2 separate regions of the Homo sapiens genome follow, and region 2 is linked to region 1. Evidence: fine-mapped expression QTL. A gene starts in region 1. The other region holds a variant in brackets. All regions are shown on one strand. Distances are between the middles of the regions.

The links.
Region 2: its variant is fine-mapped to the expression of PYCARD in whole blood (TOPMed, PIP above 0.99).

Annotation. Positions count from the first base shown.
Region 1 is chr16:31,201,168-31,204,072 of GRCh38, reverse strand. PYCARD (PYD and CARD domain containing) reads left to right here and starts at 1,313. Exons shown (of 3, transcript NM_013258.5): 1 at 1,313-1,656; 2 at 1,870-1,926; 3 at 2,232-2,587. The coding sequence starts at 1,383. The coding sequence ends at 2,488. PYCARD-AS1 (PYCARD antisense RNA 1) reads right to left here and starts at 2,188. Exons shown (of 2, transcript NR_102400.1): 1 at 2,087-2,188; 2 at 621-1,613. RefSeq lists a silencer at 963-1,322 and enhancers at 1,433-1,662, 1,852-2,482.
Region 2 is chr16:31,247,386-31,250,290 of GRCh38, reverse strand. No RefSeq gene overlaps it. Among named protein-coding and RNA genes, the nearest start is that of ITGAM, 11 kb to the left of the region's middle. The variant G/A (reference allele first, on the strand shown) is at 1,465.

The DNA.
Region 1 (2,905 bases):
AGAGTGCAGTGGCACAATCATAGCTCACTGCACCCTCAACCTCCTGGGCTCAAGTGACCCTCCGGCCTCAGCCTCCCAAAGCACTGAGATGACATGCGTGATGAGCCACTGCACCCAGCCATGCTGGAAGCTTTTGAATACAACATGCTGCAGGCATCACAGCCTCATTCATTCCTTCACTCAGCAAATCTTTACTCAGCACCTAATGTGTTCCAGATACATTTTTTTTTTTCAGATGGAATCTAGCTCTGTCACCCAGGCTGGAGTGCAGTGGTGCAATCTTGGCTCACTGTAGCCTCTGCCTCCGAGGTTCAAGCGATTCTCATGCCTCAGCCGCCCTAGTAGCTAGGATTACAGGCGCCCTCCACCACACACAGCTATTTCCAGGTACATTCTTGACGCTAGGAATTCAGCAAAGAATAAGACAGTTAAGGTCTCCGATGCTCATAGGCCTCACATTTTAGAGAGGGATGAATGTCCAATAAGCATATAAACGTATAATATGTCAGGGTCGTATGACTACAAGGAACAGTGATTGTTACAACCCAGATGAGAGGGAAAAATAAAGGATTCCAAATATCCCCCTTGGGAAGTAGAGTCAGGATTCAAACAAAGAACTGTATGGCTTCAAGTTCATGGTCTTTAATCTCCTGGAGGCTGTCTCTCTTTCTTTTTTCTTTTTTTTAATCAGTGTTGGGATCAAATTCTGGCTCCCCTAGGAAGCATCTGGCAAGGTTTCGGGAGCCATCGGGTTGGCCATGTTATGCTGGAATATTTATAAGCACCGGAGGGTTATCCCCATGTCGTAGAAAATGAAACTGAAGCTCAGAGAGATTTGCACTCTCTGCCCTTTTGTACAACTCATTTTTCCCCAGTATGTGGAATTGAGGGAGCTTCACGCTTCTAGCTGTCATGATTCCAAGATTCTACGACATGTGGGAGAGGATCCTAAGGTTCGGGGAACCGCGGAGGTTTCGGGGTTCTAGAAATCCGAGGTTCTAAGCCTAGGTGCTCCAATAAACCCAGTGAGAGCCAGCCCAGGTTTCCGGTCTGTACCCGCTGGTGCAAGCCCAGAGACAAGCAGGCGCCACCCATGAGCCCCTCTGCGGCCCCCTCCCGGGTCCCACCTCGCAGGCCAGCTGGAGGGCGCGATCCTGGCGTCCCCCGACGGCCTGGGGCCCCAATCCAGAGGCCTGGGTGGGAGGGGACCAAGGGTGTAGTAAGGAAGCGCCTTTTGCTGGAGGGCAACGGACCGGGGCGGGGAGTCGGGAGACCAGAGTGGGAGGAAGGCGGGGAGTCCAGGTTCCGCCCCGGAGCCGACTTCCTCCTGGTCGGCGGCTGCAGCGGGGTGAGCGGCGGCAGCGGCCGGGGATCCTGGAGCCATGGGGCGCGCGCGCGACGCCATCCTGGATGCGCTGGAGAACCTGACCGCCGAGGAGCTCAAGAAGTTCAAGCTGAAGCTGCTGTCGGTGCCGCTGCGCGAGGGCTACGGGCGCATCCCGCGGGGCGCGCTGCTGTCCATGGACGCCTTGGACCTCACCGACAAGCTGGTCAGCTTCTACCTGGAGACCTACGGCGCCGAGCTCACCGCTAACGTGCTGCGCGACATGGGCCTGCAGGAGATGGCCGGGCAGCTGCAGGCGGCCACGCACCAGGGTGAGCCGCCCCCGTTCCCCTCCACCCCGTCTTTCCCCTCCACCCACACCAGCGCTTACCCCGCGGGCTCTTCCGCTTTCTGTTCCTCCTACCCCTAAACAAAGCTGCTCTACCGGAAAGGAGGCTCCCCACGCTTGGCCTACCGACCAACGGGACCCCGGCCCCACGGCGGGAAGGGAAGGGAAGGGGATCACTTGGCCCATATCCTTCCAGGCTCTGGAGCCGCGCCAGCTGGGATCCAGGCCCCTCCTCAGTCGGCAGCCAAGCCAGGTGAGGCCTCCACACCCAGCCCGGCCCCACCGCACTCCTGCACAGCCTGCATCTGTGCTCCCGCAACCAGGGCAGGGCAGGGCAGGGCAGGCACGGCTTGGCAACCCTGCGCACCCCACCCACCAACCCACACCCTGCGGGGGAAGGGAGACAATATTACCCTCATCCCACTGCATGTGGGGTCCTGGTGGCCGCCCCCTGGAGCCCTGCCCCTAGGCTTGCAGAGGAATTCCTGAAGAACTCAAGTTCAGCAGGGACAGGCCCCACACCCTGGCTGCTGGCTCATGTTCTCCTCCCACCCCCAGGCCTGCACTTTATAGACCAGCACCGGGCTGCGCTTATCGCGAGGGTCACAAACGTTGAGTGGCTGCTGGATGCTCTGTACGGGAAGGTCCTGACGGATGAGCAGTACCAGGCAGTGCGGGCCGAGCCCACCAACCCAAGCAAGATGCGGAAGCTCTTCAGTTTCACACCAGCCTGGAACTGGACCTGCAAGGACTTGCTCCTCCAGGCCCTAAGGGAGTCCCAGTCCTACCTGGTGGAGGACCTGGAGCGGAGCTGAGGCTCCTTCCCAGCAACACTCCGGTCAGCCCCTGGCAATCCCACCAAATCATCCTGAATCTGATCTTTTTATACACAATATACGAAAAGCCAGCTTGAACTTGTGTGTTTTCCTGCTTCTAGCCTGCTGGCATGTGCAGAGCTCAGCTATGCTTCAGAGGCCACCCAGCCTCCAGCTCCATGTCCCTAGGGTCTCTGGCACCCCAAATGCTTCCCCCATCCTTCCTGGTATCGCCATGGAATATCCCTCCTCATTCACCAGGTGGTGCTCCTCCAGTGCTCCCTAAAGGGTCTAACCTTACCATTATAGATAACAGCCTGTGACCCAGGTCCGAAGGTTAAAAGAGGCATGTACCAAAGGGCGCAAACTGGTGGGCAGCTCTGTCCAAGCCATTTAGAAACACACTAGTCTTCATAG
Region 2 (2,905 bases), 46 kb before region 1:
TAGCTGGGCATGGTAGCATGTGCCTGTGGTCCCTGCTACTTGGGAGGCTTAGGTGGGAGGATCACCTGAGCCTGGGAGGTCAAGGCTGCAGTGAGTCAAGATTGCACCACTTTACTCCAGCCTGGGTAACAGAGCAAGAATCTGTATCAAAAAAAAAAAAAGCCAGGCACAGTGGCTCACACCTGTAATCCCAGCATTTTGGGAGGCCGAAGTGGGTTCACATGAGGTCAGGAGTTCGAGACCAGCCTGGCAAACATGGTGAAACCCCGCCTTTACTAAAAATACAAAAATTAGCCAGCCATTGTGGCGGGCGCTTATAGTCCCAGCTCCTTGGGAGGCTGAGGCAGGAGAATCGCTTGAACCTGGAAGGTGGAGGTTGCAGTGAGCCAAGAGCATGCCACTGCACTCCAGCCTGGGTGACAGAGTGAGACTCTGTCTCATAACAAAGAAAAAAAATGGTGGGAAGGCCCCTTTCCTTTAAAGGTGAGACCAAATGTTGCACACATCATTTCCTTCACATCTCATTGGCCAGGACTTAGTCACATGGCCACACACAACTGCAGTGGTGACTGGAAAATGTGATGTTATCCTAAGTATCTGTGTGCTAATTAATGGGGTTGCATTACTAAAGGAAGAAGAGGAAAGCACATGGGGGCAACTAGCTCTCTCTGCCACATATCATTATCATTACTCTAAGCACGCTCTGGATGAAACATCTTGTACAATTTGACAAAGTAACTATGGTCCTTAGGCATCCTTGACCTGATATAAGTATCATTACTGTCACATTCAGCTCAGGGCCTCTCTATTCAGAGCTTTACAGGCCTTGGGGTTTGGGGAGAGGCTGCAGATTCAACAAGAGCTTTCCTCCAGAAAAGTTTTATGTGCCTTAAATAAAGTGGGAAATTGAGGGAGAGGGGGGCTTCCTGGTTCCACATGAAGGAATACAGAGGTTGGAGAAAGGGTGGAGGCAAAGCCCTGAGGGGAGGCAGGCATCTCTCACTCCAAGGGGCTCCTCAGCAGAGGAGAGAGCCATGGTTAAGCTAAATAGCAACCCCAGGAACACCTCAGCTGTACTTCAGCTACTGGGGACCACAAGCAAGAGATGGACCCAGCTTGGAGTCTAGAGAGAGTCAGGGCATTTCCAACCACATATGGGTACCAGTCATGTGGAACCCCTGCCATCCCTTCAATTCTTTCCTCTCAATCTCTCACCCTGGGGGAGCCACAAACAGAAGGAAGAGAAAAAGGAGGAGAAGTAAAAGGGTGGATCACACACCCTGGCCCCTCAAAGTCCCTAGAGCTAGCATTAAACTGTATATGGTGTGATGACTTGGAGATTATGCCCATCTTTCCACTAGACTCTTCATTCAACAGGTATTAACTATGTGCCAGGTGCTGCTCCAGGCTCAGGGAAATGGATGTGAACGAGAGAGGAAACCTCCCTACCTTTAAGGAGCTTAC[G/A]TTCTTGGGGGGTGATAAACAATGGCTGCCTTGAGAGCAGTGACTATGTCCTGCTCATGGCTTTATCCCAGGACCCAGCACCTTATCTGGCTGGGGCTCACTGAGTGTTGCTTAGATGAACCACATCACAATTGAGTTTGTGTGGACACTTGTGGTTATCTCCCCAGCATCCAGTTTCCCCCTTCCCAGCGACTCTCAATTTCCACTTGGAGGACTACGTGGTTTGGGAAGAACTGACTTTGCCCCAGGTCTGAGGGTGGAGCATGTGAACTACACTAAGACAATCCAACTATTCTATCGCTCTGACATAAGTCGTTGGTTCAAGTGTGGGCATGTGTCTAATCAAAGTGGATCTCAGGACAAAGATGTTTTTTCTCCTCCTAGTGTGATGTAAAACCTGGAACCACTGCAGCTATTTTTGCTACTGTGGTGCTGGGATTACAGATGTGAGCCACTGCACCCGGCCAAAAATTTTTTTAAATTTAAGAAAAGAAATCAAGGGAGATAAGAAATGATTACTGTTGTTTTAAGCCTCTAAGCTTAGGGTCATTTGTCATGCAGTTTCAGATAATTATTAGGTGGGTGCAAATGTAACTAAAGTAATTAAAGTCATGGCCAAAACCGCAATTACGTTTGCATCAAACTAATAGTACAATTGACTATTGGGTGTGTCTGGAATACCATCCTTCTGCTTCTTTTTGTTTTCCTTAGAAACTCCTACTTGCTCTCCAAGGGCCAACTCAAGTTGTCACCTCTTCTGAGAAGCCTGCCCTAATTTTCCTGCTTAACCCCAAGCTCTGTTACACACAGCTCTATTAGCAGTCCTCACACTGTGATCTTATTGTTTATGAGGTTATTTCTCTCACTATAGCTTTTTGAAGGCAACAATTTTGAATTATCCAAATGCATACGCCTAAGACTGAGCATGGTATGTGCTACATTAAAAAGGAGTTTGATGAAGTTTGGTTGAATAAATAAATAATGGAAACTTCAGCTGTGGACAAGACAAAGAATGCTGGCGGGGTGCGGTGGCTCACGCCTGTAATCCCAGCACTTTGGGACGCCAAGGCGGGCGGATCACAAGATCAAGAGATCAAGACCATCCTGGCCAACATGGTGAAACCCCATCTCTACTAAAAAATACAAAAATTAGCCGGGCATGGTGGCGAGCACCTGTAGTCCCAGCTACTCGGGAGGCTGAGGCAGGAGAATCACTTGAACCCAGAAGGCGGAGGTTGCAGTGAGCTGAGATCATGTCACTGCACTCCAGCCTGGGGGACAAAGCAAGACTCCGTAAAAAAAAAAAAAAAAAAAGAGAGAGAGCGCGCACAAATTCAGATGTAGTTATAGACATGCAAATTAACTGGTTGATGTGAACGACACAGCTAATAAGGTAGCATTAATAGATGTATGTCATGCCTGTAGTGCCAGCTACTTGGAG